Homo sapiens: one gene and its partners. The protein of the gene in region 1 purifies or fractionates together with the protein of each later gene. This does not show direct contact. Each region holds a gene or a part of one and is shown on either strand. Other genes may lie near its edges. The genes, in order: GRPR, PANX1, CDS1, ASPHD2, FNDC3A, USP30 and RAB3B.

Region 1 (4,948 bases):
CTGTATGTTTTTAAAGCTCCCCTGTGACTCTGGTGATCATCTGGTTTGGAGGGTCTTCTAGTTCATTCACTTTTTCACCAATCTACCTAATACAGACTACCACCTTGAAAACTGACAATATTTAGTAAATATAGGCCCCTATAACCCAGCAATTTCACTCGCAGACATATATCCAAGAAAAATAAACACTTATGTTTCCCCAAAGACATGAATAAGAATGTCCAGAGCAGGTTATCATCATCCCCAAACTAAAAACAACCCAGTGTCCATCGGTATTAGAAGGAATAAATAAACCAAAGTGTATTCATACAATGGAACACCACACACAATTAAAAAGAACAAACCACACTGTTACACGTATTAATACAGGTGAATATCACAGAGATAATGATAAGCATAAGAAGATAGATACAAAGGAGTACTTGCTATATGATTCCATTTATATGAGATTAAAGAACTGGCAAAAATAACCTATGGTGATTGGAATCAGAATAGTGATTGCCTCTGTATGGGGGTATTAACTAGGAAAGGGCATAAGAGAAACTCTGGGGGATGCTGGAACTGTTCTATATCTCCATCTGGTTATGCAGTTCTATAGACATATGTAAAAATATATTGAGCTGTTACTTGTTCAGTTTACTGTGTATATGGATTACACCTTGTTGAGAAGAAAAAATAATATAGAATATATATTTGCCCTGCCAACCTCAGAGATATAAGATAGAAGAATCCCATTGTTTTCAAAAATGAGATGAATAGAAAAAAAGTACAGTCTTAATCATTTAGCTCAATACCTATTCTTTCTATTGGAATTGGTTAGATGCACTACCTGTGATTCAGGTGATCCATCAGCTTTTTAAAGACTTAGCAAAACACAAAAAGTTAGCTATATGGGAGCTTCTAGTAATTTCTGAACTTGGCAAGGACAGGCAGTAACTATAAACTTACTGGGAACACACTGGAGCCGCGAAGGAGTGCAACCTGGCTTTTGAAAGAGCTTTCCCTTTCTGTTGATGGTGAACTTGGTCTGCTTTGAAACTCCAGAGAAGAGTTCCCTGCAGCTGCATCTTTACAGTTCATGCCCTCACTTTCCTTTCTGTTTTTCTCCCTAAGAAGAGAGTAAACACCATCTGTACCACTGCACTCACCAACCCGGAAACCAAAATCTCTCCTTCCCATTAAGAAAATTACCCTCATCCTGAAGAGCCCTCGGCCATTGGTAACAAGCCACAGCCCTTCTGCCAGCTCCAGAGTTTGCCAGCCCTGAATCAATACATGAAACTGTCTGTGGTCATTGGTATCTGTGGGCAGATGTGCAGGGGAGGATGTGCAAGCCGAAGGGGAATGGAGGGAATGGAGAAACTCTGTCCAGTCGGTACAATGTGCAAACCTTACTTCTGTGCTATTACTTTTCAGACTTTGAAAATGTCGTGTGCTGGGCAGTGTGCTTCAGGTAGCTAAGCATAAACACATGTCTATAAATACTGATAACACTATCTTTATTTGTCCATTACTCAACAAAGCCAGATCACCTGAGGACTGTTTGTTCCTCTACAAAATGAGAATCCAGCACCACATGTATTAAAATGTGGGACATTTTCTTCGGAGTATAAACTTTCAAGAGCAGCATCTATGTCTTTTCCAGAACACTCTCAAATCCTTCTGTATCTTTAACACATAACATACAGTTGATTATAAGTGAAAAATTTATAGTCTAGGTTCATTGCAGCAGTTTTTCTGGGTTTGACCATATGGTCTATGCTGTGTCTGAAAGTCTATTCATTACTATGTCCAATTTCCAGAACACAGAAGTACATAAAGTATGTTCAGTAATTTATGTGAACAACCTGCAGCTATTTCTTGACTTGCTAATTCAGGTAAGTGTTTCTTACATGCTAGACACTTGATAAATGTTCAAAGAATGAATATATAGTTTTAAGACTGAATAAACGTAAACTTTTATGCAATGTGCTCACACAAGAAATGCAGTTTGCAAATATGTATATTTCCCAGAATAAAAAACTGTAGTGAACTCCCTCTTCCTCCCCACAATAAGCCCCAAAAGCATGGTATATGAAGTATTGTCAATAAAGATATTAAAATTAGAAATCAACCTTGAATAGAGCTTTCTCCAGAAAATTTTAAAAACTCAAATAATGTTTGATTTCATTTAAGAGAGACTTAGGAAAACCGGCATACAATTGTTCTATCACAGAGAGTCAAATTCAAAATCAGCTGTGAGAAAAGTTAAACTGTCTGAGGAAAATGAATTTCAGAGAAATGAGGCTTATTTTCTCCTCTTGGTTATTTCTGAAAGAACGTTTTGAAGAAATCCAGTGGAACTTTCCTGTTCTCTGAGGGGTTTCAATTGCTCCTAAAAAACATTTGCCTGAGGTTTAAACTCTATTGGGTGTGATTGTCTTTCTCACTGGTCAATTAATTTTGCAAGGAGGGAGAAGTTAGGAAAAGGCAATGCTAAATAGATATGTCTCCAGAAAAAGGCACCTCAGTTTTCTGCTTAGAGATTTTTTTTTTCTCATCTGTCTCCTTCTGTCCCCATCATTCACTTTTCTTTCTTAAACCAATATGTTACACTCAAGAAGTCATACCCAGAATAAAAACCTGCCTGGAAGGGAATCCGTGTTTGAGTAAAACTTCCCTTGTGCAATCAGCTCCCTGTCCCGACATGGTAGTTCATTTACCCAGGCGTCTATCACCCTTGGAGAGCATGTAACTTTCAGCCTGTACTTACCTGTCTGCCGAGAGCGCCGTGAGTGTGAAGACAGACACCCCAACAGAGGTAAGCTGTATAAAGGGGATCAGTTTGCAGCCAATCCTGCCAAATAGCCATCTGTCAGCCAGGTACCTGCTGGCATCCACTGGAGCACACGTTATTAGGAGGAGCAGGTCTCCCAAAGCCAGACTGGAAATGAACAGGTTTGGAACGTTTCGCATGGACTTGACTGTACAGAAGATCTTGATCAAAGTGATGTTGCCAATGAGGCCTATCAGAATGATAACCCCATAAACTGCAGGGATGACATAGAGGATCCCCGGGTGGGACCAGTCATCGTTCACGGGGAGATCCGCACTGTGACTGGAGATGTTGCAGTGCATGAAATGGTCCACCTCCAAGTTCAGAAGGAAACAGTCATTTAGAGCCATCTCTAGATTTTTTTTCCCACCTAAAAGTTCCCTTAGATGCTATTTCTTAACTATTGATTTTGCAACCGAGTGAAGATGAAGATAAGATCTATGCCGGGCTCTTTGCCTTCTTTAATAAAAATACTCTGAGTACATATATACTAACTATGGTATTCAAAACTCTCTGTCACTATTTTGACACTGGTGCTGCTCTGGCTTTCACATGACCAGTGCAATACAACTCTAAATTCAATAAGTTAACAACAACAAAACTTAGCCACAAAAAGGCTTAGAATTAAACCCACTCTGCATCAGTTCTTTCTACCTCCATTCTAGTCTGAGTCTCCCTGGCTGCAGTTTACTAAGAACTTTTGGCCTGCTATTTTCCCACAGCGTCTTTCCTGATATTTAGAATCTGGAGGTTTAAAGTGGGTAGAAAAAAACTGCACTGAGAAATCCTCAAATCCTATAGGCAGGATGCTTTGCACGTCACGGGCTTCACCAGCAAACGGCAGCTCCGCTGAGCTGAGGCTCTGAAGAGGAACCAGTGTTACTTATAGACAGAGAATGCCAGCCCCCTGCTGGACACTTCAATCACTGCCCAGTTGCCTGCTTTCTCCAGATGAGAAGCAACCAGCCGACTGCAGTTCCTACCTAGCTTAACAGATACCTTTGGCTTCTCATGTAAGCACATAGCACCTAGGGTAGGTATTTAATAAATGTTGCTAGCATTCTGCAAAGGCACTGAAAATCTTTCTGATACTATCCCCATGAATCCAGATGGGGATTTACATCCCATTTTCTCATTTTTTCTAATTCATTAGAATGACATGTCAATATTGCTATCAAATGAGGTCTGTCTTTGAATTAAACGCACACTGATGCACAGGGTGTCCATGTGTGAGTTATCCCACTCAGTCTTCCCACTGCCTCTTTGAACAGGGACTGATCCTCAGAAACACATGCACAGACTCACACCTTAAACCTTCAGCAACTGACATCTGGAAAAGCCAGAAGCACAATGCACACATGTTCTTTCCTGTAGATTTGCCAAGCCATTCCTATTCTGTTTACCAGGGAGAAATTAAATTGGGAACCAGCTGTATTCTTAACTCTCAATGATCAATAGTCTTTTCCAGAAAAATGGGTCTTTTCTCATCTGATCTAAAAATTTTATGAATCGGCATTTTGATGCAGCTATTTGCATTTTTAATTGAATGTTTGCCATGTTTTATAGCAAATATCCTCTTTATAGCCCTGTGTGGAAAATAAAGAACTATAAAAGCGTGATAGATACAATACTGAGGAATTGAGTGGGTGGTAAAAGAAGTAAGTTATCGTTGAAGGAGTGCTAGAAAAAGCTTAATTGAGGAAGTGCTATTAGAATCAGGCTTAGACCTTTAGCCAACAACTTCTAAATACATTATTAGAGTGCATCTTTATGACGTATGTGAAGCCAGCTCCTCCAGGTACATGACGTGAAGCCAGTCACTAACAGGTGAAGTCTCATTTTTCAGAACCCATAAGGAATAACAAAACTTGCACTTACCATGCCAGGGCCCACAAAGAAAGCCCCCAACTGTGTTGTTATGGACATTTCCAGTGGCAGGTTCCAACACTGAGGCTGCTGCCATGCTTTCTATGTAAATATGAAAGGCTCAGCGCCCCTCTCTGCCAGCAGGAGGGAGACTGATGCTGCATGGCTAGAGGTGGAAGAGCTTCTCGGCAGAGATCAGTAGCACCAGTAACCAGCCAATAGCCATGAGCCCAGTGGTGTTGATTAGTTGCCAGCAATATAGCTTAA
Region 2 (4,516 bases), on another chromosome or scaffold:
AACATGTATCCAACAGTAGACTCTCTGGACAGCATGCATCCTTCTGGAGGGGTTAGGAGTCTCTCTTGGCTCTTTGGTTTAGTGTGAGTTGAAGATGTTCTATTATAGGACCTATGCCATGAGACCCTAAATATTGGCCCACTCTGATAGACAACCCTGAAAAGAATCGATCTGCTTTGCCAGCTGGTACATGCTAAAAAGCAGCCTGAAGATATTCCCAAAGACAGGTCTAAATTCAGCCACAACAGAGCAGATAACTTAAGCCACCCAGCCGCTGACTCAGTTGCAGGAAATGAAAGGGGAACTCCAAGCAAACTATATTGGAAGCAGCTGCAGTTATATCTATCCTTTGACTCACTGGGGCTGGCCCAATGCCTGCCCTGTAATGATAGCAAAAGAGCAGTGCTAACTCAGAAAGACTAAGTCCTTCTCTACCCAGAACGGTGGCTGCCCACTAAGAGGTCAGTGGGTGAGGGAGGCAGGGTCCCCGGCTGACCAGACACCCTTTCCCTAGTAGACTACTGGCTGCCCCAGCTCCCCACCTGGTCCAGCCAGCCAGAAACATCCTGGCAGGAGACACGGGCTCTCCTTCCCAGGGGATATGTGCCACATGAGGCACCAGGGAATCAAAGCAGCCCCTGACGCCTCAGGCCTTGTACAGCCCTAAGCGCAGGGCACAGGAGGCCCTGTCAAAAGACCCCTTAAACATGAATCCCATTCAGAGTCTGGTCTGTTGATAGTTTTGTCTTCAACCAGGCTGCTGTAAGAAAATCCCACAGACTGGGTGGCTTAAACAACAGTTATTTTCTCACAGCCTGGGAAGTTCAAGATCAAGGTACCAGCAGATTCGGTGTCTGGTGAGAGCTCTTTTCCTAGTTTGCAGATGGCCCCCTTCTCCCAGCGTGCTCACACACCTTTCCTTGTGGCCGCACTTGTGGAGAGAGGAAGAGGGAAGAAGAGAGGAAGGGGGGTAGTGGGAGAGAGAGGGAAAGAGGGAGAGAAGGAGGAAGAGGGAGGGGGGAGAGGAAGAGGGAGGGGGGAGAGAAAGAGGGATTTCTTCTTTTTCTAAGGGCATCCCATCATGAAGGTCCCACTCTCATAATCTCATCCAAACCTAATTACCTCCCAAAGGGATCTCCAATTAGCATCACATTGGGGATCAGGACTTCGACATATGAATTTTGCGGTTGGGAGACACAAACATTCAGTCCATAACTGCAGCACACTAAGGGAATTCATAACTTTAGAGAAATACTTCTAGAATTTCAGAGCTTGAAGGTCACGTCATGCAATCATGCTTATATTCTACACAAAGCTGTCGCCCAGCCATTTCCTAAACCTCTCCCCCCATCAATGAAATGTGCAGCACTTCTAGAGGCATCTGAGAGTAGATGTGTTAGAAATGAAGGGCCTCAAGGCACTGTCTCCCAGCAGCTTGCACAAGGTGACACCCATAGGGTACCCAAGCCACACAGATCACACTCATCCTTCTTCCACAGTACACCATTCTGCACTCTGAACACAGATTCTTCCTCATCACAAAAATAACATAAAAAAGAATCTGAGGCACACGCAATATAACCTGAGCTTATAAATCAAGTGGGACAACTTACCTATCATGACGATGTGCATCCTTTACTGCTATCATCAGAGGCAGGTGTCTGGGAGGTGGCCAGGACAGGCCTGACCCAGGACAGCACTTGTATCATTAAATGGCACTCAGAGGGCGCACTTCCAAGCAACTGGGACCCTTATCCAGAACACTCCGTCCATTCCCTCAGCACAGCCACTCTGGGAGAGTTCCCTAGTGTGCTCTGGCACTTCCTTCACTAAATTCCTATGGAGCACTTGTTGAGGGCAAGACATGGTAGAAGACAAGAGGAAGGAAAAATGAGGGCTGGTGAAACCACTGATTCTCCCTTCTCTGGCTCCCACCACACAGCCTTTCTAGCCCAAACTCACAATTAAACTGTCTTTTGCTGTGTGTCACTTATTTTCCCCCTACCCAGCTGAATCTCAGAGGAGGCACACCTGCAGTATTTTAGAAAGGCTGACTAGAAGTATCAGGCCTAACCAGACAGGTGCACATTTTAGTTCTTACATTCAATCCTTAGTATCTCACTGTCCAAAAGCCTTCAAAATGCTCCCAGGCACAACTCAGAAGAGTCTCCTTGCCACTCCCTCAGGAGGGTTTCTGCTTGTAATTCTCACTATCACAGGGCACATCTGGACCAATGAGTGGCTGCCGCAAAGACTACCAAAGTTGCCTCCACCTTGACCATGGCACCAGCCTTGCCATGCCCCTCCAGACCACATCACTTCTGCAGTGACCCTCAACCTGTGATTGTGGGCAGCCAGACCAAGATCTGGTGAATGAGCAAGGCAGAGTCCCTTCTGCTCTCTGTCCCCAACACAGTCCCCACCAGCCCAGGTAGCCCCACACCAGTGCCTACCATGCAGGACCTGCGTGAACTGCTGTGGGAGGGAAGGGGCCAGAACCTCTGAGGAGTGGACGCTTCACCTGCAGCCACCATGCTGGCACCCAGCAGGGCTTGATAAAGATCAGCCTGCTGCTATGCCCATGGGTCTCTGTGGCCCAGGCAGGCTCAGTCCCTCTTTTCTGAGAGGAGCCCAGTGGGCTGAACTACTAAGAGAAAAGGCCAAAGACCAAACGGAAGCCTTTAATATGAAGCCAAGTATTTTATCATATGAGGACATTCCCTCTCTCTAACCTACAACACTCCCACCCCCACAGAGAACCTGCTCTTAAATCTAAAGCACAATCCATGCACATTTCTTGATTTAATAGATTTTCTTTAAAGTAAAAAATCATTTATTTAAAGGAAAAATCGCCACAAAGTTTCAACTTGAACCCTATTTTATCAAACAACAGTTGACAGAAAATTTAATTTTTGGAAAGTAACTGGAAAATATAATTTATTTTACGCTTGAGGGGATTTTATATCAAAAGAGATGAATTCTTATATATACTAGTTTATCATACAGGTGGAAAAAGGAAAAACATGTAATTACAGCTGATTTTCTCGTTTCTAATTTTATACACACACACACCACCCCCCCAACACAAACAGGAAAACAATGGGATTTGCTATGCCTTCTTTCATGTGGAGCCCCTGGACCCTTACTTTGGCTCCCACCTCTCCATGTGACGGTGCCACTAAAGCTCCAGCAGCCACATGTTGTCTCACACGTCTCAGCTTCAGCCAACACTGCTCCACACACTTGGAATCCTGCCTCAGGGGCCAACTCTGCCCTGAAACTCTCACTGTTCATGAGTCAGAAGAAACCCCTCCTTCTGCCTTTCCACAGCATCAGGCTTTAGTACACACTTCTGACACTGCCCAGGTTCCATGAATCCTGCATTAGGAGGGTTATGCGTTCAACTTCTCTACTAGACCGTGCTTCCAGAGGAAAGATTCTTATGTCCTACGTGTGTCTGACACCCCATTGCCAAGGTACAGCATCATGCACATAACAATCAATTAGCAAGGTCTGATGATGCCAAAAGCTATCACCTTTAATTCACAACAAATGTTTATAGAGTAGTTTCAATCTCCATGCAAAACATGCATAGACAGGTTATAAAGCTCTGTGTTAAGTTCAACAAAAGAGTATTCCAAGCACCAGAGAGGGAAGCAGTAATTATCAACAGAGGAAGGATGAAGCCATGTTTTAAGTCTGCAGGCCTTATCTCAGTGTCTTCCCGGGGCCTGAGTTCACTGGCCAATATGGTGGGCAAAGTGCCAGCTCCATTTCAATTACTTCATTCTCCCTTTATTGCTGTTCTTTTTTTTGGTTTGTTTTTGGCTGAGTGCATACTACTAACTACACAAAATTAAATGCTGCATGACATGATCCCTCCCACTGTACCAACTCCATGTATTAATCTATGTACCTCTCCCCTCTTCTCAAAAGCCCTTCTTCTGGTTTTATCTAAATGTATACCTAATCTAATAGGTCTTCCCTGGTCCTGTTAGCTTCATCCCACATGTCTGTCCTCCCCTGGAACTCCTGAAAACACTTCAGAAAACATGGGAGTCTGCTTGACAGCTCCTCACCCAAGTGCCTGCCAACCTTCACCAGCCTGGAGCTCATAGCTCAACACCTGGCTGGGTGCTGAATTACACACAGCTGAATGACTTACCTGCTAACAGATACCTTCTAGTGCCCAACTGCATAGTAAACTGCCACAGGGCAGGGAGAGGGCAGGGCAAGAACAAGGTCTCAAAATCCTTTCCCATCTCCCTCAGCACACAACAGTGCTATGCACACAGCATGAGCTCAAACTCTTGCTAGTTAAAACCACTCCCAATACCCCAAAAATACCTCTCAGACAGCCCACCAATTTAGACGTATCTAAGGCATTACAGGTACAGGTGCCTTAGGAGTCCCTCTAGTACATGTGCTAGAGGTGGAGATTGGTCACAGAGGGTGACTAACTCCTTCCTCCTGCCTTTCTGTCCCAACCAGGTACCCAAGACTTGCACCTCCAAGA
Region 3 (4,516 bases), on another chromosome or scaffold:
GAGTGAGGCATTGGGGACACGGGGGTGGGTTGCTCCCACTCGGGCAAGCATCTCCTGCTCTGCTGCAGCCACAACCCCGACTCACTACCCTACAGAACCATGGAAGCCAGTTCACAGGGAAACAGGGAAAAGTGAAGCACATGACGAAGAGATGGCCCAGGCCACAGGTCACCGTTTGAAGCTGCCTCCTGAGCTACTGTCCTCTGTTGAGATAATATGCGGAGGATCCGTACACTGTGTTCTTCACAGCAGAATTCTTCCTTGTTGCTCTTGAAAAGTTTTTGCGAGGTCGTGACCTTCCAAACAATTTTATCAGAAGTAGTCTGATGCCTGCTCTTTCTAACAAACCAATCATGGCAAAAATTTCAGGCTCCCTCCCCTGAATTTTGAAACTACCTAAAAGCAGAATGTTTTCCCCTGGCAAATGGTTACTTCTTTGAAAAGTAGACAATCTTTTTTTTTTTTTTTTAAATCCAACTAAGCCCTTTAGAAAGTACTCCAGACTACATGAGGAGGAAGTGCAGGAGAACTGACTTCCTATTGTGCCTTGCATAAAACATTTTGCTAAAATTAAAAGCAGCTCCAAGTGCAAAAGTAAATATTTGTGCAAAAAGGCACACTGCCAGGTGCAATCTTAAAACATCGTCAACTTACTCATTTTATAGTGTTTGACTCTTTTAAATACCAGTCTTTTAAATTATGAAACCTAGCAAGTAAGGGGAAGGAAGTTCACATCAGAAAATACACTTTAGAAAAGGTACAAGACATTTTGCTGGCAATTTGCTACTTATTTCATAACATAGATCAAGTAAGTGTTTGTTAAATATTCACAGTAATTTCAGAGAGAAACATATCTCCAAAACTTCAACCTATTGCATTTTTAACTATTTTTCTGTACAATTTATAAAACATCTGTCAGTGTTTTTCTGAATAATTCCTTCTTGTCAGTCCTTCCCTCTCTGGATCCAGTTATACCTTCAAGGTGGGTTGTAGGATTCCTTTCTCAATGAGATGAGTCTTCAGGGTTTTATATATATTTAACTGCTGTTCAGGTTGAAGCACCAACAACTGCTGTAGCACTTTGCTGGGATTTGGGCCCCTAATGATAAAAGGCAAAGAAGACAAGTTCGTGTTATTTTAATAGGGATAAGTGAAGCACATACCTCCAATTTAAAACAAACCATTCCTTTAAGTGTAGAGTAGGAATCTTTACAGAATTAAAATAGCTCTTGATAATAGCTCACTTTAATGTGCAATGTTAGTGTCAAGGGTTACAGCAGAGAGGGAGAAAGAATGCACAAACACAAAACACAAGAGCAATGTAAGTCAATTGAAGGGGTGCAGATCTAAGTTCTACAAAAGCTCTTGAAAGGGCAACCAAAGTTAAAGGTGGGGATAAATGGCAAATCTTGAGATTGAATGAGACACAAAAACTATTCTGTAAGGAAAGGAGCCTGGTGAACATAGGACAAACCAAAAAGAGGGCATGAAAATATAATTGAAATTTTTAACTTCCAAGAAACTTCAGATGATGAAAGGTATTTTGTTGAAAAATATCTCCAGGGAGTTATGAATATTCAGAGTCAGAACACAAAAGTCCTGAGCCTAGCACTGAAGCCCCTTACCAGTGATACAGGTGCCGTGGACTTTGTTCAAAGACAGTCCTAGGTGAACTCCAATATAAAAAACAAAATAAAAGCAGATCTGCTTTAAAATCCAATGGGAAAAAGCAACATACAAGTCATGTATAGAGATGGCATAGAATTCTAAGAAAGACATTTATGTGGGTAAATAATGTATGCCTTACAGTAAAGATTGTTCACATTGAATTATAGAAAGTAGAAATCCCAGCAACAAAGAAATGTTTGCTATTTAGTGTTACCACAATGAGGATGAGCAGAGGAACTATTTACTCTGAAAATCTTTGACTTAACAAATTGCACAAGAGCCCAGATGAGCCATCCCACCAAGGGTCATCTTCATGCACGTGGCTCAACTCATCTGCCAAAAAACTTTCACACTCAGGTCAGGACACTGTTCGCCTTATTTCATTTCTTTAAAAGAGTCAGCAACTTCACAGCATAAACCCCAAGTAGAGACCAACAGAGAAAAGGAAGGCTGCTTTAGCAAGTTCAGCTAAATGCAAAATTGTGTCAGCAGGTGCTCCCAGCTAGCTGCATCCTGGCACTCTCAGTGTCTTCTAACAGTCTAAATAGCTGCTTTCAAATGGTGGACAACATGGCTCAGCATGACACCTCCCTACTGAGAGGACAGCATTTTTTTTTTAAAGAAAGCATATGAGTTAATGCCCTAAAAAGCTGCCATATTCTGAAAACAAAGTTTTAAGGATTTAACCACTAATTACTAATACCCAAATAGATCAATAAATAATATGCAAATAAGTTAAATAGTCCCATTAAAAGGATAAAGATTATCAACTGTCTTATAAATAAAACAGGGAAAAAAATCAGCTATATGCTTACTAGAAAAAAGAAACACATTAAATATAAGGAAAAGGGAATGTTAAAAATAAAAGGAGAGACAAAGAAATAACATGCAAACACTGACCAAAAGAAAGCTGATATTGCTATTTTAATATTCAACACAGTACGCTTTAAGGCAAGCAGTAAAGACAGACATTATATAATGACAAAAGGATCAATTCAATGGAGAGATATGACAATCCTAAATTTGTACATACCTAATACAACCTCAAAATATATAAACCAAAAATTGGTAGAACTACAAATAAAAAAATACATTTACAATCACAATGAGAGACTTTAACAAAGCTCTCTTAGTAACTGATAGAACAAGCGGACCAAACAAACACAAAAACAAATAAACAAAAATCAGTACAGAAGATTTAATTAAACCTCACCTAACTGACACAGACAAAACTACAACCCAAAACTACAGAATACACCTTTGCCCATGGAGCATGTACTAGAATAGATAACATGCTGTACCACAGAATAGATCTCAAAAATTATAAAATACTCAAATCATAGAGTATGTTTTCCGACCACAGTGGAATTAAGGGAGGAAAGTGAAAAAATCTCCATTTGTTTGAAAACTAATGAATATGCTTCTAAATAACCCATGTGTTAAAGAAGATATAATACTGGAAATCAGAAAACATGTAAATAATGAAAATACAAATATCACAACTTGCAGGAAGAGGATAAAGTGATACTTAATAGTCTTCAATGGATAAATTAGATAAGAAGGCTAAAAATCAATAATCTAAGCTTATCTCCAGAATTAAAAAAAGAACAGCATATTGAACATTTAAAAAAGGCAGAGAAATGAAAGATGAGAGGAGAAATCAATGAGGTAAAAAATTTACAGTAGAGAAAATTAACAAAGCCTGGAGTTGATATTTTTGAAAAGATTAATGAAATTGATAAACTCGCTATCAGGACTGTCTCTCAAAAATAGTTAATATAAAAATTCTCACACTACTGTGGTACATATTTAAAATGTGTATTTAGGGATTGCTAAATATGAATTTCCTTCCAAGTACTATGAAGGAAATCCATGTTTTCTACAGCTCAGGTACTATTAATAAGCATTCTGCCTTCTGGGCCCCCAGTAGAGACCACAGAAAATAAAGTTAACATGCAGTTGATGTTAAGCCTTCACACTCACACTGGTATTTCAAGGCAGATCCAAAACATTAAGGTTTAATAACAAGAATAAACCACCCTTTCTAAAATGGCAATATTCATCCACCCATCCACCAGCCAGCCCCTACACACACAGGCATGATCCCCTCGGCCTGCTTTATTTTTCTGTGTGACACTTACAACCATCTAACAAACTATATTTATTTGTTTATTGTCTCTTTCTCATCATTCTTTCTTCAACTTCCAAACAAGTAGCTATGGGGGCAGAGATTTGGTTTGTTTTGTTCTCTGCCATATTTGTCCCTAGAACATTCTACAATATGGCAGGCACTCAAGTAATAATTGGTAGACTGGATGCATTTCGTTATCTCCCTTTTTAACTCTTAGTATTCATGATCATTGCAATGCCCACAGTTGAGAAATCAAATCTCCTCAAGTTTCAAATCCTATACCATCCACATTAATTGGGTCTTCAATGTGGTCCAGGACCATGACAAATACTATCTTTTTTTAAGTTGTTCAAATGTAGGTAAAACAATTACAAGTTAACCATCTTGCTCAAGACTCTAATTCCAGGGGCCACCATTCACTTTAATATTGTAGATTACCATTGACGGAAAAAGTTAACTTACTCAAACTAATGTTGATGGAAATGAGAACTCAAAGAAATCATCTAAAAAATGTCTCAAGTGTAAAAGTACCTTATAAAACTTGTGATGTACACATGTACAAAAGTTGCCATCAAATACTGACAATCAAATCTGTCCATTATCCCACCATGTCCAGGAATGGTATTTGCAAAATCCTTTAGAAACAAACAAATATATTAGCAAATTTTCAAAAAATCACCTGCTATAAAATTCCTATCTGTGTCTCTTTGGCGTCAT
Region 4 (4,144 bases), on another chromosome or scaffold:
GCCAGGATCGCGCCACTGCACTCCAGCCTGGGCGACAGAGTGAGACTCTGTCTCAAACAAAACAAACAAAAAAATTAGCCGGGTGAGGTGGTGGGTGCCTGTAAGCTACTCCAGTGCCTCCCAGCTACTCCGGAGGCTGAGGTAGGAGTATCATTTGAACCTGGGAGGTGGAGGTTGCGGTGAGCCGAGATCACACCACTGCATTCCAGCCTGGGCAACAGAGAGAGACTCCATTTCAAAAAAAAAAAAAAAAAAAGGGAAAAGAAAAAAAGATGCAAAAGGAGGTAAAGAAGCTCCCTTGGGCCTGTTTTATAAGGATGCTGCTCCCATTAGGACCCCACCTTCATGATCTGATCACTTTCCAAAGGCCCCACCTCCTAACACCATCACCTTGGGGTCAGGTTTCAACATGGGAATTTGCAGGGACACAAGCCCACAAGCCTTCAGACCATAGCACGGGCTCCAGAGGTGTGAGGCAGGTCAGGTGCTTTAGAAGTCAAAAACTCTCAGTAAGGCAAATCACCCCCTATCTCCTGGCCTTCCCTGAATCTTGCCTGCCTTCACTCTCCTTTCTCTGGTTTTCCTACAAGGTCTGAAAACTCCAAATGGCTGTGAGCTGGTGGTGGGGGGAGAGCCCCAGTGCTGGGCAGAAGGGCGCTGCCTTCTCTTTGATGACTCTTTCCTGCATGCTGCGTTCCATGAAGGTGAGTGGCTGCCTTTCCCACTTCCTTTTTTTCAATGAATAGACTTTTATTTTTTTAGAGAAGTTTTAGGTTTCCAGAAAAATCAGGCAGAAAGTACCAAGGAGGCCCCTTCATATCACCCCATAACACATATACACACACAGTATTGATGCGTTATTATTACCTAAAGTTCATGGTTGACATTAAGGTTCACTCTTGGTGTTGTCCATCCATTCTGTGGGTTTCGCCAAATGGATAATGACACGGACCTACCATGACAGTATCATACAGAATAGTTTCACTGCCGTAAAAATTCCCACTTAAAGATCCCTCCATCTCCCCATTTCCTTTTGTCCACCCTGCTCAGAAGCCCATGAAGCCAGGTTTATGCTCTCAGTGAGAGAGGAGGTGGTCCGATCCGAGCCGAGGGACAGGATGGGGTCCCTGCCCCGAAGCTGAGCACGTAGGGTCCAGCCCTGCCTGGATCCTGGGTCCTGACTCCAGGGTGGTTTGAACCTGTCCTCTCACCCCTCCTTCCCCCCCAGGTTCAGCAGAGGATGGCCCACGGGTGGTTTTCATGGTGGATTTGTGGCATCCAAACGTCGCAGCGGCCGAACGGCAGGCTCTTGATTTCATCTTTGCTCCGGGACGATGAGAGTATTTCCCATGCTGGAGTCGGCGAGAAGGGCCGAGGCGGGGCCTGGGCAGACTGTGGTCCGGTCCAGTCCCTACCGGTGTTGTTTCCATGCTCAGAAACCTGCCTCAGCGGAAAGCTCTTATTTGGGATTTTATATCATGTCGGGTCCCTCTTTCCCTTGGTTATTGTAAATGGAAACTTTTCGGCTTGTATTTCCTTAGATTTTTTTTTTTTCCTTCCAATCATTTGCTTCAGAGACTCCTTTCTGGCCTAACAGCGCATTCCTTTGATTGGTCCTTGAGTGACCAGAGACTTAGTGCCCTTGTAAGTCTGTCTTCTGTTGCTACTTGTTTTTTTCAGTGCTCTGAAATAGAGTAACTAAATGGTTATTTGTCTGAATATAATAATGTAAAACTTCTTGTGGTCATCTTAAAAAAAAAAAAAAAAAACTAAAAACTGCAAACCAGAGAGCTAGAGAACTTGGCCTCTGATGCTGGCACACTGGGGACCCTTCAGCCACCTGACGGCAGGGGGACAGTCTGCAGCCCCCACACCTGACTGGCTTCAGTAGCCAGGTGGAGGGGCTGCCAGACACAGTCAGGGTGGCACACAGTGTCCAGGCCCAGGGATACTGTCACCATCGCTCACCTCATTCTAAACCTTGTCAGGTCCCTGATGGCAAAAGCATTGGGCCAGTAGGACTGGAGGCTACTCTTTAAACATGGCTTTCCTGCAAAGCTGAAGCTGGTGTCCCCCAGCACCAAGCTGCGGCTCACACAGATCAGCCACGGAACGTGTGATCCGCTTACCTCACTGCCTACAGAAGCCCTACTGCCAAACTGGGCCTGGAAAATTCCCAGTTTTAGGTGTTTTGAGTCCACAGTGATGAACGTTAAGGCCACCAGGTTGGCTGATAGGAGCTGTAGGGGGATAGGACCGCGCTCACCCAGCGACATTTGGGGAAAGCCTTTCTCTGGCAAAACTGGAATAATAGATCTGACCAAAGTTTCTGTTTTGCTTTGGAGTTCTGTTGCCTATGTTTTTTTTTTTTTCATTTATTTGTCTGTACATAAATGTTCAAACACTAGACTTGGAGATAGTGGAAGAGTTGGCCCTGTGTCTTTGTCATGGCACAAAGGTGTGCACTGCGTGACAATGACCCAAGCCAGTGTGTGCTAGTGAGGAGACAGAGAAGACCTACATGCCCAGAGGACCCGTGGCCGTTGTGCTGGTTTTCTGGTCTCCTGTGAAGAACATGTGGATCTCTTCCCGAAGGAAAAGGTCCCAGGAGACCAGTTTGAGGCACTCACTCTAGAAATAGCCTGTGTTAGCTGATGTGTGAAAGCGTAGCCGGCCAGCCACACTAGAGATGCCTTTTCTGAATAATGTATTATGAGCAGTGTCAGATTTATAAAGCCGAGGAGTGGTTTGGAATATACAGCTGGTCGCAGGTGCAGGTCCAGTGTTTAGATCCAAATGGAAAACAGCAGCTTCTAAGAGGTACAACTGTTGGAAGAAAACACAGTTGAAATGCACCAGGCAGGTACTAGCAAGTGTGCAAAGAGCACGTCTACATTTGAGTAAAATGTCTACACAGATATTTGTCAGTGATGAGAATGCAGGAAAAGGCAGACATTTCAAACATACCTGAAGTCTTTTTACTCATTATCTTGTTAAAGAATCACTGAGGTGCATGATTTCTACACATCGTGACTGCTCTGCTCTGCGTTTACAAAACCAACAGCCCGCGCAGGTACCTAGCTACCTGCATTCATGTGACATGTCTGGGGAACAGAAGATAAATAAAGGATCTTGCTGAAAACCAGAGTGAAGTGGTGAGGTCATCTGTTGTAAAGAAAGACTTAGGCCAGGCTCGGTGGCTCACGCCTGTAATCCTAGCACTTTGGGAAGCTGAGCGGGGAGGATTGCTTGAGCCAAGGAGTTTGAGACCAGCCTGAGTAATATAGTGAGGCGTTGTCTCTACCAAACAAACAAACTAGCTGAGTGTGGTGGTGCACACCTGTAGTCCCAGCTATTTGAGAGGCTGAGGTGGGAGGATCACTTGAACCTGGGAGGCGGGGGCTGCAGTGAGCCTAGGTCGCGCCAGTGCACTCCAGCCAAGACGACAGAACAAGACCCTGTCCAAAAAAAAAGACTTGCTAGGCAGAAGGGGGCAAGTGACTTTGAGGCTCTTGTGTTTTGAGTGATGTCACAGAGACAGGCGGGTCACTAGAATTGATCGTGGATAGTGAATGAAGCAAAATGTCCCAAAGCAATGGGACTAGTGGGGTGGGGACAAGAGCACATCTAGGATATGTTAAGGAGCAATAGATGTCTAACTGGGCAAAGAAGAACAAGGACCCTGGCTTCAGAAAAGCTGAGGATTTAGGACTCCGTGCCAGGAGTTTGCACCCTCGGGACCTTGGGCAAGTCCCTTAGCCTCTCATAGCCTCAGTTTCTCCTCTGTGGGTATGTGCAGTATCTGGCACATGAAGGGCACTCAACAACCTTGTTTCCCTTTCTGCCACAGCTGAGTAGAGAAACAGGTGAAGAGGAAGGCCGCCAAATGGAAGAGATGGGAAAACACATCGGGACAGCAGTGGGTGTGGCCAGAGAAGCCAGTGGCTACTTTCAATTGCCTGTGTCTAATCACAGAGGAAGAAACATGTCCCTCAGTAGCTGTGTTTTTCATGTTTTTCCCTTTAGAAGAGAGGGAGACAGGGGGGTCTCCCAGCCAGGAGCCCTAGAAGCAGCCGGGCTGCCGCATGTTTCCACCTGCAAGCGAGGTTCCAGCCAGCTGTCCGGGCTGGGCTGCCACAACAAG
Region 5 (4,516 bases), on another chromosome or scaffold:
ATTAAAATACATGATTTAGTGTGGCAGTATATGGCACATTATATAGGAATAGTACAACATGTACATGAAGATGTGAAAGAGGCACAGAAAGAACCTGAATGAAATTAGGTTCTTTCTAATTCAAAGATTAGCAAAGATTAGCAACAGTGATTAGCAAAGGGACTAGATAATTAATCACAGAATCTAACTGAGATCACACAGTGAAAAACTGAACTGTATTCATTTAGCGTGCAGGCCCTGTGTCAGGAATCTGGAAAAGACTGAAACATAATCTCTGCCCTCAAGGATCTCAGAGGCCAGGAACGATCATAATCATTTACTATAAAATTGTTTCAGGGCCGGGTGCAGTGGCTCACGCCTGTAATCCCAGCACTTTGGGAGGTCGAGGCAGGTGGATCGGGAGGTCAGGAGATGGAGACCATCCTGGCCAACATGGTGAAACTCCGCCTCTACTAAAATACAAAAAATTAGCCGGGCGTGGTGGTGCGCACCTGTAGTCCCAGCTACTTGGGAGGCTGAGGCAGGGGAATTGTTTGAACCTGAGAGGCGGAGATTGCAGTGAGCCGAGATCGCGTCACTGCACTCCAGCCTGGTGAGAGTGAGACTCCGTCTCAAAAAAAAAAAAAAAAAAAATTGTTTCGGTCAGGCACAGTGGCTCATGAGTTGTAATCTCAGCACTCAGTGAGGCTGAGCGGGGAGGACCACTTGAGCCCAGGAGTTCGAGACCAGTGTGAGCGACATGGTGAAACCCCATCTCTACTAAAAATACAAAAATTAGCCAGGTGTAGTGGCCCACGCCTGTGGTCACAGATACTTGGGGAGCTGAGGTGGGAGGATGGCTCCAGCCCTGGAGGCAGAGGTTGCAATGAGCCAAGATAGTGCCACTGGAGGCCAGCCTGGGTGACAGAGCAAGACCTTGTCTTAAAAAAAAAAAATTGTGTCCTGCTAGAAATAAACACTGAAGAGTTTATTTTGTATCTAAGATTAGGTGTCTTTTACTATCATGAAAACAGTAAATGGATTACAGAAAACAACCAAACAGTAGCCCACTTATTTTTTTCTCTTGGTATTCCACTCACAAATTATAAACAGGAAATGTACATTGTGTTTTCTAACGTTTTAAAAACAGCACACTTTTGTATGACAATCTTGACTTCGTTTTTGAAAACTTACTTCATTAAAATAAATTTTTTTTAGAGACAAGGTCTCACTGTCTTGCCCAGGCTGGTCTTGCACTCCTGGGCTCAAGCAATTCGCCTGCCTCAGCCTCCCAAAGTGCTGAGATTACAGGTGTCAGCCACCACACCTGGCCTACTTCTAATAGTTACAGAAATGTATATACTTAAGACCTAAGAAACTATATAAAGAAGCAATTAAAAAAACCTACCGTCCATTCTTATCCTCCATCTGAAGGTGGTACTGAATAGAATCGGTTGACAATGTCTTTGGAGTTCCTTCTCCCCATTTCAGCTTAAGGTTCTGGTGGCTAAAGGCAACACATTCCAGACGAGGTGGATCAGGAGGGAGAGGCTTAGTTTTTAATTTTATCATATGGCTGAAAGGACCAGCTCCAAGGCTATTCAAGGCTTGAATTCGTATTCTAAGTGCCACATAAGAAAAAAAGTTTGGTTATGATTGTTTTATTTAAAGCGTCTCTCTGGTCTAGGCAAAAATCAACATAATTTTTAGAGTATACCTGTATGTTGTATCTGGTTGCAAATTGTTGATAATATAGCTTGTAACCTTTCCCACTGTTAGGGATTGTTTATCTCCAAAGTCTATGCTGTAGGCAAGGATTTCCGAACCATGATCACAAGGCTTTTCCCAGCTTATTGCAAGGCATGTAGAAGGTGAATAATGGGGATTTTCTATCTCATCATCGCTTATTTCTTGAAGACAGGTCACAATGCCAGGAACTGATGGTGGAGTCACACAGGCTACTACTTCACTGAAAGGGCCTGCACCCACAACACTCAGAGCCTACAAATTAACAGAGCCTCCGAGTTAACAAAGTCATGACCATGAAAATGCCAATGAAATATAAAACTCTGGATAGAGTTAAGTGACAAGGTACTGATCATCTTTACCTGGACCCTGCAATAATAGGTAGTTGCTGGTGAAAGTCCTTTTATTTCATAACTGAGACCAGGCCCACAGTAACATATCTGCATACTTCCTTCAACTCCTCCCCACTCCAGTCGATATTCAGTGACATCTGTTCCATTACTCAAAGGAACCTTTAAATTAAGAAAAGGATAAAGGTCTTAGTCTTGATGTTGATTAAATAGCTTTTGGCCAAAAATGCTCTTTACCTGAGCACATGTAAAACTAGATTGCTTTTGAGTTTCTTTAAAACTTTTAAGCACAATCAAAACTGTTCAATTTTACATTTTTTATTCATTAAGATTATCTGAATTTAAGATTGGTCAAATATATAACTGTTTTGAATTAGAAGTAGAAATATGACTAAGTCACTTTAGAAAGAGTGTTTTAAGGTAAATATGTTTCAAGATAATTCTATTAATATGAAATGTTAAAAGCATACACACATTTTGTTAAATTTCAAAGGGAACTGAAAATATAATAATTATCATCACTGATTATTACTATCCACAATAAGTACACTGGAGATGTGTACTGGATAAATATAAGAGAAATAGAATTTACTAATTCCTGTGTATGTCTATTCTGAACATTAAACTTACAGTGGCTGAAATATCTCAGTACTGAGACAAAGCCATTCATAAAAATACAAAGCACATAATGAACAGGAATCTAAATATTTGTAATGCAAATATACCTTACTCAAATTCTTCAAAGAGGAAAAAGAAGTCACTGTTTTTCATGTGAATTAAACTAGGGCTTACTCTGTATAATATAGGCGGTAAAAATGAACAGTATCTTTATTCTTTTATATAAACTATTCTATTCACTTAAGAAAGTAGATACAAGTCAATGGAAATTACAATACCTCCCAATTCACTTGTGCACAAGTTGCAGATCTACATGTCACTTGAGGGGGCTTGCACTGATCTGGTGGCCCAGGGGCTGTAGTAATATCACATTTTTCTGAAAATGGTCCAAACTAGAAAAACAAATGTAACTAGTGTTTTTATTTTTCACCCTTAAATGTCCACTGATTGCACAGAACTGCATATTTAAAGATTCATTAATAAAGTCTTTTCCCTGTGTTTCAAGATTAATTTGGTCATAATTCTATAAGTATTCACATTAACTAAAAAGACTTAAAAATCATGAAAGTAAAGGTGTGAGAAATTTTAAAGTTTCATTTACCTATACTTTCTTCTGCCCCTTATTTCTTCAGGAAATGGTTTTTGTAAGAAGGGCAGGACATTAGGGAATGAGGTCGGTGGAATAATTCAGGAGAAATATAAGGAGTGAAGAAATTGATACTAATTAAAGGTACGGGAGATGGTAGGTGTAAATTATTATTTTTAATTTTTTAATACTTCACGAATCTTTCTTAGGCATATTCCATATCAAATTTTACCAACATTCTGTTCTATAAATTTGTTTATTTTGTAACAGAATTTGATTTTTCTGTTCCATGCTAAAAAGCTCACTTTCTCATAATTACTTTTAACATACATTACCCGGAATATAAAAAATTTTATTCAGTATTGGCAAATTCCTTCCCCGACACATAGGAGAACAATTACAGAAATTTCTTGTCATCAATTTTTCAAAGCTCATTAGCAAAAGAAAAGCCCCAATACACTGGTATTTTCACTTAACAGTGGCGCATCATTATAATGGTCAGAAGTAAACCTACTTGTTACTGCACTGTATCAGGCAGTTTTGCCAAATGCCCATCTTTAAGAGCTAGCTCAACTTCTTTTTTTTTTTTTTTTTTTTTTTTTGAGACAAGGTCTGGCTGGCTCCATCACCTAGACTGCAGGAGTGCAGTGGTGCAAACATGGCTCACTGCACCCTCGACTTCCTGGGCTCAAGCCATCCTCCCACCTCAGCCTCCTGAGTAGCTGGGACTACGGGTGTGCACTACCATGCTGGGCTAATTTTTCTACTTTTTACAGAGACAGGGTTTCACCATGTTGCCCAGGCTGGTCTCAGACTCCTGGGCACAAGTGGTCCTCCTGTCTCAGAGGGAGGACTGCTTGAGCCAAAGTGCTGGGATTACAGGCATGAGCCACTGGGCCCAGCCAGCTACGAAAACTCTAAGAAACTCAACTTCTCAGAAAATTCTATGGAAACATTCAGTTGTTAACAAATATTTAATATTAAAATTATTCCAAGTTATTTATTTTTAATTTAGGAAAAAACATGTATTAATCACCAATAAAAATGTTAATAAATAACGACTTACCAAAGGGTAGGGATTTTAAAAATATCAAGTTTCATGAATATTGGTAAAAAACCTTAAGAAGGTGAAACCAACTATTCAATGTAACCATTAGGCCCTAAAAATAACAGTATAATACTTTAAAAATAAAATTTTAAAAAGTTTTTCCAAAAGAAAATAGTTCACTCCTTGACC
Region 6 (3,490 bases), on another chromosome or scaffold:
AATTCTTGTCAACAATTTTTATGGGCCTGCTTATTAAAAATAAAAGATCTAAGTGGAAACGTTGATTAGACAAAGGTACCTCCCCTCTGAGAACACCTAACATTACAATATGAAAACGGTGGCTTCAAGAATCTGAGTTCTTTTAATTACCTGTATCAGATGAGTAAAAAGACACTCCGGACATAATGAATGCTTTCTTAACACAACAGAACCACCTACACACATGAACAGGACTGTTCAGGGAGCCTGGTTTGGTGTGAACTGGGGCTGGCTCCCAGGTGGAGCCTGCTCTTAGAACACACCAGAAGGCTGGAAGGCTCTAGTGGGGCCGCTTGCACACGCAACAGTACAGTTTTACTTTTTTCCTGGACAGTGCAGACAGTGCCATCAGCTCTAGCCTTGCAGGAGGGCACAGTCATTCTTCAGACTTGCACTCCTGGCTCTGGTGCTGCATCCTGGAAAGGACGCGCTCGTAGAACAGCAGGTAGGCGCTGGAGGACAGGACCTCCTGCAGGCTGGCCTTGCGGACAGTGTCATCGGAGACCCACAGCCACTGATTGCTAGTTGAGAGAGGGTTCCTGGCAGAAGGTGGGGACCGTCGGTAAGTGACAAAGTGTCCAGAGTGCATGTCTCCATGGTGGACGACAACTGCCATCAGCCGGAAGAGGTATGTGGAGGAGCTGAATGATACGAACACATGTCAGGGGTTTACAATTTTAACAAAAAGACTTTATAGGCAAAAACAAAAGAATGCTAATGTTAAATAGGGGATGAATACAATGGTAAGTCCATACCACCAAATGCTACACAACTATTAAAATACAGATCTGTATTTACTGGCATGGCAAGATGTACATTCTATGAGTATATGTATATTGTGTATATGTGGATGTTTGTATCAATGAGTGTATGTGTTTATGTACACTATATGTATGTGTGATGTACAACTTTATAGAGTGCATGACCCTAAGTGTTTAATTGGCTATCTCTAGATGGTATCCCAAGAAATTTTAAATTTTCTTTATATTTTATACATACACACATATATACACACATACATATGCATATGTAAATTTTATGTACTTTAAAAATTTTTAATTTAAAAGTTATTTCCATTTTGGACAAAAATAAATAGGAATGTGTAATCGTGAAACTTCACCTTAAAATGAAAAATAAACATCTATATTTTCCTTAATTCATTTCTGTGAAAAGCTAATTTTAGAAGCTAAGAGCAGTGGTAGCTCTAAGATGGGGCTTGTAAAGGGTGGCTCACCTGTAGTCGGGAACAACTGGGAGAGGGAAGGGCATCGGCGCTGACAGCGTTGGCAATAAAGATGGGGAGCAGGCGCCATTCATAAAAATCTGTGTTTTGGGGGCCCCTGGCTGATTCAGAACTGCAAGAGAAAAAGGCCCGAGTCAATGAAAATTAGCAGTGGCTCTGTAAACAAAACCTGGTTTTGATTACCTTGAAAGTTAACTCCCCATAATGCTACAAAGAAAAAAATCTATTTCATTTGGTATTATATAGATTCATAAAATAATCTGCCCTTTATCCTTAATCTCAAATAGGGATAATCTGTCTTAATCCCAAATAGGAAAAGTGTATCTAGCTCCAGCTTTACGGCTAGCCTGGGATCTTTGAGCTTCCTAGCCCTGTTTGCTAATGCCATGTATCAAAGTTAATCAGTAGCTAATTTACTGGCTTTTGACCTAAACCAAGGTTTCTCAACAGCAGCACCATGATGGTTTTGGCTGGATCATTCTTTGTTGCGGGGGCTGTCCTGTGCATTAGAGGATGTTGAACAGCATCCCTGGCCTCTACCCACTAGACACCAGTAGCACCCCTCCCCCAGTAGTGATAACCAAAAATGTTACCAGACACTGCCCAATGTCCCTTGGGAGGCAAAACTCCTCCAAGTTGAGAACCACTGATCTAAGCATTCTATTTGCTTTAATTCTGTCAGCTTCTAAGGAATACCAACGTGTAATAGCATTCATACATGTTTATGGGTAGACAACATAATTAAGGCCATATTTACATGTCTTTTCCTTTCAAGTGTCATTTTTGGGGGCTGTTATGTACCAAGTAGTTTCCTGATGACATTTTTTGTGTGTGTTTTAGACAGGATCTTGCTCTGTTGCCCAGGCTGGAGCACAGTGGTGTGATCACAGCTCACTGCAGCCTCAAACATCTGGGTTCAGGCAATCCTCCCACCTCAATCTCCCAAAGTGCTGGGATTGCAGGTGTGAGCCACCACGAGTGGCCCTACTGCTGGCATCTTTAACCACAGCCAGCATGCTCTCAACATTAGTAAACCTGCACCCCAGCCCAGGAGATGGGGAAGCTGGGGTGCAGAGGTCTTTGATTTAAAACCAGGGCCAAGGACTGAACCAGAGTCTGTCCCCTACCTCATCTCTTTTCGATGTTAATCTAGTGACTTGATGAGAAAGAGGAAAACACAATCTCCCTGACATGATGAGGTGTCGGGCCATGCAACTGTGGTCATAAAAAGAACAAAAGGAGTAAGGGACCCTAAATAGGAAAGTATGGGGTGTGAGACAATCCTGACCTAACTGGGGGCAGCAGACAGGTGGTGAGTTCAGGCTGTGAGCCCTTCAAGTGAGTGGGTTTTCCTCATGTCTAACTCTAAAGAACTCAGTGTGTCACATGAGACACCTTTAGAAAATGGCCCAACATGGCATTCTAGGGCCAGTTCTCCTGTGTGGTGTTTGCCCTTGGACCAATCATTCAACCCCGTGGAGCCTCCATGTTCTTATCAGTAAGACCGGCGATAATAGCTACCCGGCTTAAATGAGACCTCAGCTGAGGGCAGTAATGGAATCAGATACATAATTCAGTACAGAAGGCATTTCAACCCCCAGAAGAGGCTCAGTGATCTTTAGCCAGGACATGTCCTCCCTACATTTCCTCTACTGACAGGAAATGACATGACCGAAAAAAGAAATTCACTGGAATGATGTGAGCCAATGATTATATCATTTAGCGGAAAAATTAGAAGGCAAAGCTGCAATTTTAAGCGTTTCTCTCTGTACTTTTTCATCTGTAATATGGTTTCAAAAACGATACATCTCACTGCTACATAATTTTAACCTCTTCTAAGAAATCTTCCCTCTTCCACCCCCAATCCTGCTGTTCTCAAGAGTTTAAGCACCATTGTACAAGCCTTGTGCTCCTGTCATAAGGGACCCAGAAGGTGGTGATGCCAAACTGCTTTTCTCTGTGCTGAAAATTCCTGCTGCATCGGCTCCTCGCGCGCACACACCTGGTGTGGGGGCTCCCGGCCCATCCTGCAGCTCCAGTGTAGGCCCTGGGTTCTTGTTCAGTTTAGGGTTGTGTTGACTAGGTTTATGTCCAAGGAGGTGGTACTTGTAAATGTCCATCATCAGGAACTCATTGAACTGCACGTGCTCATGCCGCTTCAGAGGCGTGCCGTGGCTGGACCAGCTCAGCCGCTGTAGGTGGATGCAG
Region 7 (4,261 bases), on another chromosome or scaffold:
GCAGATGAGTAGGAGTTAACTAGGCTAAGAAAGGGGAAAGGTTTCCTAGCACATCATGGTGGAGATAGGTGTAAAATTGGACTGAATATCCCGCCTACTTAGACTCATTAAACTTTTTGAGGAGAGGTGGGGGTAGGGAGCAGGTTCTGCCCCTTCCTGGGGCTGCCAGTTCTGTCTACATTTGGTTTCATTTTCCTGTGGGCTCTCTACTTTCCAGCTCAGCAGCTTTGTTCCCACGTGCCATCCAGCAGTGTATCTTAAATCTCTGCTATGAGCTAACACTGAGCTAAGCTGCTGGGAGGCACACATTGCCCCTTGTTATTCTCTGCAACCTCTACACCACCTAGCACAGAGCCACAGCCCAGCAGGTCTCCAGAAGTGCACACTAATAGGCATTCCCTGACCTCTTGCAATGTCAGTCCTTCCTTCACCATGAAGCCTTCCCTGACTGTTGTAGTCCATCCTGATCTCCCCCTTTCCTGAGTCCATCATGAGCTATTGCATCATATTGTGTCTTTTGTTGCACTGGTGCTGGACCTGTTTCCCAGTTCCTCTTAAAGATTTCTGAATGCAAGAATCTGTACCCAAAGTTCTTTTTTTTTTTTTTTTTGAGACAGAGTATCACTCTGTCACCCAGGCTGGAGTGCAGTGGAGCGATCTCGGCTCACTGCAACCTCTGCCTCCTGGGTTCAAGCAATTCTCCTGCCTCTGCCTCCCCAGTTGAGCTGGGATTTACAGGTGCCCACCACCACATCTGGCTAATTTTTGTATTTTTAGTAGAGATGGGATTTTGCCATGTTGGCCAGACTGGTCTTGAACTCCTGACTTCAAGTGATCCACTTGCCTTGGCCTCCCAAAGTGCTGGGATTACAGGCATGAGCCACTGCGCCCAGCCTCCTCTGCCCAAAGTTCTTAGCACAAACTCAGGAAAGAGTCACTCTACAAATGATACACAATTCAGAAGAACTTTAATGCATATACCATCATTGCCACTATAATAGAGATAGAAGATACATTAAGAAAATTCAGTTTGTATCAATAAAACAGATCAACACAGAACAAGGAAACACCATAGATATTTGTAAATGAGATCTTCTCTTTTGCTACTGTGTATATATATTCCTTTATATTTATACAAACTCACAACACATGACATTTCATATTTCATATGCCACTGAGAAGAGGTGTCAGTATACAGAACATAGGAAGAAGAAAAAAGCATGAGAACATCTGCTTAGTTAGAATCTGATGAGGAGAGACGTGAGAGCTATTGTTCCTCTCTCTGCTCAGGCCTATCGAGAGGCAACTGCAGTTTTTGCTAATTGTTCCTCCTGAGGAATTCTGCTCATACTGCTATGGTACATCTCCTAGGTTGGCATGAGACCAGCCTGGTCCCCAGTTGAATAAATTAGAAAGAGCAGTTGGGGGAATTGAATATGATATGCAAATTGCATAAGGTGACATCTCTCTGTGTGGCCACAGAGATAGATCATCTGCTCCTGGCTCCTTGATCTGAGGGAAGCCTCTGCTGTTCAACCTGCTCCAGGGTTTAATTCTGTTGGGGTTGTGGGGCTGACAACAATGTGTTCCTTTCCTTCCTTCTCTCCCACAAGCAGAGGAAGTCATACGTAGACAAAACAGATGTTTAGGTTTTCTCTTCAGCAGGCTTCCTCTTGTTCCCCTCTATCACCCCCAGATAGGTGAAGTTCAGAATTAGGACTGCCCACTGCGGGGGGAACAGACCCTCCCCTGTTCTGAGACTAACCCTGCCATTTACTGCCTTCTCTATGTAGTCTTGGATAGGTTGCTTCACTGATGCAGGCCTCAGTCTTCCTCATCTGTACTGGAAATAATAAAACCCACATCACAGTGTTGTGTCAAAGATCATCAGGGCATGGATGGGAAAGTGCTTTGGGAACTGTAAAGTGCCTAACACATGATCGATGATTTTTGTTATAATATTTGAATCACGGTGCATACAAACTCTCCTGCCTGCTCCTCCTGGGCCCCAGCCCCAGCCCCATCACAGCTCACTGCTCTGTTCATCCAGGCCCAGCATGTAGTGGCTGATTCTTCTTGGCTGCTTTTAGCCTCCAGAAGTTTCTCTGAAGCCAACCAAACCTCTAGGTGTAAGGCATGCTGGCCCTGGTATTTCTAGATGAGGTTAGGTTCCTGGGACAGGAGTGTGTATTGAGGTGGAGGGAAGGAGCTGAAAGAAGGAGGGGATCCTTGGAAAGGGCTCTGAGAGGGGTGTATTCGTTTCATTCTGAGACGAATACCATCTATCCCCCTAGACTCTCACAGTGGCTCCACCTTAAATGTCCACAGCATTTCACTTTCTAAAATGTACTTTTATTTGACTCTCATAACTATTTTGTGAAGTAGGGAAGATTGTCAGCCTCATTAGGTGAAAATATGTTGGTTCAAGATCACACAGTTAGTATGCTGCAAAGTCAGGACTCAAACCCAGGTCTCTGGAATCCTGGTTTTCTGAATGTCGGAGGGCACCTCTAACAAAGGCTCTGGAGCACTCTAAACTCTCATTCTGGGCTCATTCCTCACTCCTGGAGGCTGATTTCTGGGGGAAGGAGGAAGTGCATGAGGTACCTTTCTGTCACATGACTGGTGGCAGACCCTACTTTAACCCAGCCCAACAAGGTCATGCTACAGAGCTGCTCATGGCATTTTCCTGGACTCTCCTCCCTTGGTCCTGACTGGATTCTTCTACCCTGATCCACTTAGTAAGTTCAAGCTCCATCTCCTACTTACACAATGCCCCTTCTCTTGCTCCTTTGCTCATGGTGTTTACACTGGCTTTCTCCAGTCTCTGGTTCTCAGTCCCCTTACAAAGATCCTGGATTAGATTTGCCTGCCTAGCTCTGCCTGATTGGGATTACACATTGTGTAGTGCCAACATCACACGTTCGGCATCTACTGTGTGTGCACGGCACTGCACTAAGGGTTTTACACCCATTCTCCATTTAATCCTTTCAACAGCCTTGTGAAGTAGATAGTATTACTTCATTTACATATGAAGTAACTGAGGCTCACTGAGGCTCCGGGAGTCATCTTCCCGAAGTCACAAAACTAGTGATGAAGACCCAAGAACTGAACCCAGGTCTGTCAGACTGTAAGCCCTGTAGGCTTAACTATTCTGCCTTATGACCTTCTGAAACCTCATCCTGTGGTCTGATGTCTACAGGGGTTGGAAGATAGTTTACTACATGAAATCCTTTAGTTTCCAGGCTTTTAGCTGCATGGCAGAGTTTGTCCTGAGAAAGATCTTGCCCAGCTCAGCCTGGCACACACGGGTCCATAAATTAAGTCCTCCTTGAGGTGGAATGCATTTCTGGCACATAAACATGGCTGCCTGGTGTCTCTTTTCAAACAAATGGGACTGTGCTCTATTCTCAACAAGTGTCAGAGATTCTTGTTTCTCTTCCTCTTGTTACTCTTTAGGAACCTCCAGCCTAGAATAGTCAGGCATGGACCATCCAAACACAAATTGCTAAGATGCTTTCTGGCAGCCTCAGAAACCAGGACCATACGCCTGGCTAAGTGATGAGGGGGTCACACAGCCTTGGCTCTTTTCACTGTACCCGAAAAGAAAGGAAGCTTTAGTAATGAAAGGATTGCTGCCAAAATCCTGTTTCCCCCTTGCAGATCTTACAGAAAACAGCCACAGAATCCCAAGGCATCAGCACCAAGAGAGCCTGTAGAAACTATCTGGTCTAAGCTCCTGAAGCCCAGAGATAAGAATGACTTAACCCAAGCTGCACAGCCTCTTAACAGTCCACTGTTAACCCCAGAAACAGATGCATTTGAATCTGAAAGGAGACAGGAATCCTAATCCTACTGCTCAGGGACTTGCTGATTTACTTTGCTGTCTATTAGCCTTTCTGTGACATGATTTTCTACCAAGCAAAGTCTTTTATTCAAGTCTCCCAGAGATTTCCTATTTAAGCGTTTGCTATTTGGCCACTTAAAAAAGACAGAAGAGAAGTAAACAGAAGCATATACCACACAACTCAGTCCAGTCAGTAGTTGACTCTCAAGATGGCGGATGTCACTGAGATGGCTGAGAAATAGGAACGGATGTGGAGAAAGGAGTGGCAGTGGAGTTAGCTGTTTTGTCTACCTGCTGGATACCTGGGAAGCCAGACTCTGTGTGGACAGTGATCCCTAGTCATAGGAAACTTTGCCTGTGCTGTCATCAGTGTCCATGGAGAACTGCTTCTCACCTTGAGAAATCCCTCTTCTT

What was found.
Region 2: the proteins of GRPR (region 1) and PANX1 purify together in Homo sapiens (affinity purification with mass spectrometry; 2 studies listed by BioGRID and IntAct, with this or other methods). This does not show direct contact.
Region 3: the proteins of GRPR (region 1) and CDS1 purify together in Homo sapiens (affinity purification with mass spectrometry; 2 studies listed by BioGRID and IntAct, with this or other methods). This does not show direct contact.
Region 4: the proteins of GRPR (region 1) and ASPHD2 purify together in Homo sapiens (affinity purification with mass spectrometry; 2 studies listed by BioGRID and IntAct, with this or other methods). This does not show direct contact.
Region 5: the proteins of GRPR (region 1) and FNDC3A purify together in Homo sapiens (affinity purification with mass spectrometry; 2 studies listed by BioGRID and IntAct, with this or other methods). This does not show direct contact.
Region 6: the proteins of GRPR (region 1) and USP30 purify together in Homo sapiens (affinity purification with mass spectrometry; 2 studies listed by BioGRID and IntAct, with this or other methods). This does not show direct contact.
Region 7: the proteins of GRPR (region 1) and RAB3B purify together in Homo sapiens (affinity purification with mass spectrometry; 2 studies listed by BioGRID and IntAct, with this or other methods). This does not show direct contact.

The regions. Positions count from the first base shown.
Region 1 is NC_000023.11:16,122,171-16,127,118, reverse strand, and holds the start of GRPR (gastrin-releasing peptide receptor), read right to left. Parts: upstream 3,555-4,948; 5' UTR 3,166-3,554; coding exon 2,753-3,165; intron 1-2,752. UniProt on the Homo sapiens protein: Receptor for gastrin-releasing peptide (GRP). Signals via association with G proteins that activate a phosphatidylinositol-calcium second messenger system, resulting in Akt phosphorylation. Contributes to the regulation of food intake.
Region 2 is NC_000011.10:94,131,160-94,135,675, reverse strand, and holds part of PANX1 (pannexin-1), read right to left. Parts: intron 1-4,516. UniProt on the Homo sapiens protein: Ion channel involved in a variety of physiological functions such as blood pressure regulation, apoptotic cell clearance and oogenesis.
Region 3 is NC_000004.12:84,645,140-84,649,655, reverse strand, and holds part of CDS1 (phosphatidate cytidylyltransferase 1), read right to left. Parts: intron 4,435-4,516; coding exon 4,331-4,434; intron 1,100-4,330; coding exon 970-1,099; 3' UTR 1-969. UniProt on the Homo sapiens protein: Catalyzes the conversion of phosphatidic acid (PA) to CDP-diacylglycerol (CDP-DAG), an essential intermediate in the synthesis of phosphatidylglycerol, cardiolipin and phosphatidylinositol.
Region 4 is NC_000022.11:26,441,869-26,446,012, forward strand, and holds the end of ASPHD2 (aspartate beta-hydroxylase domain-containing protein 2), read left to right. Parts: intron 1-590; coding exon 591-704; intron 705-1,228; coding exon 1,229-1,338; 3' UTR 1,339-2,813; coding exon of another isoform or gene 2,814-2,826; 3' UTR 2,827-3,147; downstream 3,148-4,144. UniProt on the Homo sapiens protein: May function as 2-oxoglutarate-dependent dioxygenase.
Region 5 is NC_000013.11:49,195,446-49,199,961, reverse strand, and holds part of FNDC3A (fibronectin type-III domain-containing protein 3A), read right to left. Parts: intron 3,086-4,516; coding exon 2,972-3,085; intron 2,238-2,971; coding exon 2,088-2,237; intron 1,981-2,087; coding exon 1,697-1,980; intron 1,601-1,696; coding exon 1,388-1,600; intron 1-1,387. UniProt on the Homo sapiens protein: Mediates spermatid-Sertoli adhesion during spermatogenesis.
Region 6 is NC_000012.12:109,082,857-109,086,346, reverse strand, and holds part of USP30 (ubiquitin carboxyl-terminal hydrolase 30), read right to left. Parts: coding exon 3,285-3,490; coding exon of another isoform or gene 3,174-3,284; intron 1,395-3,173; coding exon 1,274-1,394; intron 681-1,273; coding exon 416-680; 3' UTR 1-415. UniProt on the Homo sapiens protein: Deubiquitinating enzyme tethered to the mitochondrial outer membrane that acts as a key inhibitor of mitophagy by counteracting the action of parkin (PRKN): hydrolyzes ubiquitin attached by parkin on target proteins, such as RHOT1/MIRO1 and TOMM20, thereby blocking parkin's ability to drive mitophagy.
Region 7 is NC_000001.11:51,907,005-51,911,265, forward strand, and holds the end of RAB3B (ras-related protein Rab-3B), read right to left. Parts: 3' UTR 952-4,261; downstream 1-951. UniProt on the Homo sapiens protein: The small GTPases Rab are key regulators of intracellular membrane trafficking, from the formation of transport vesicles to their fusion with membranes.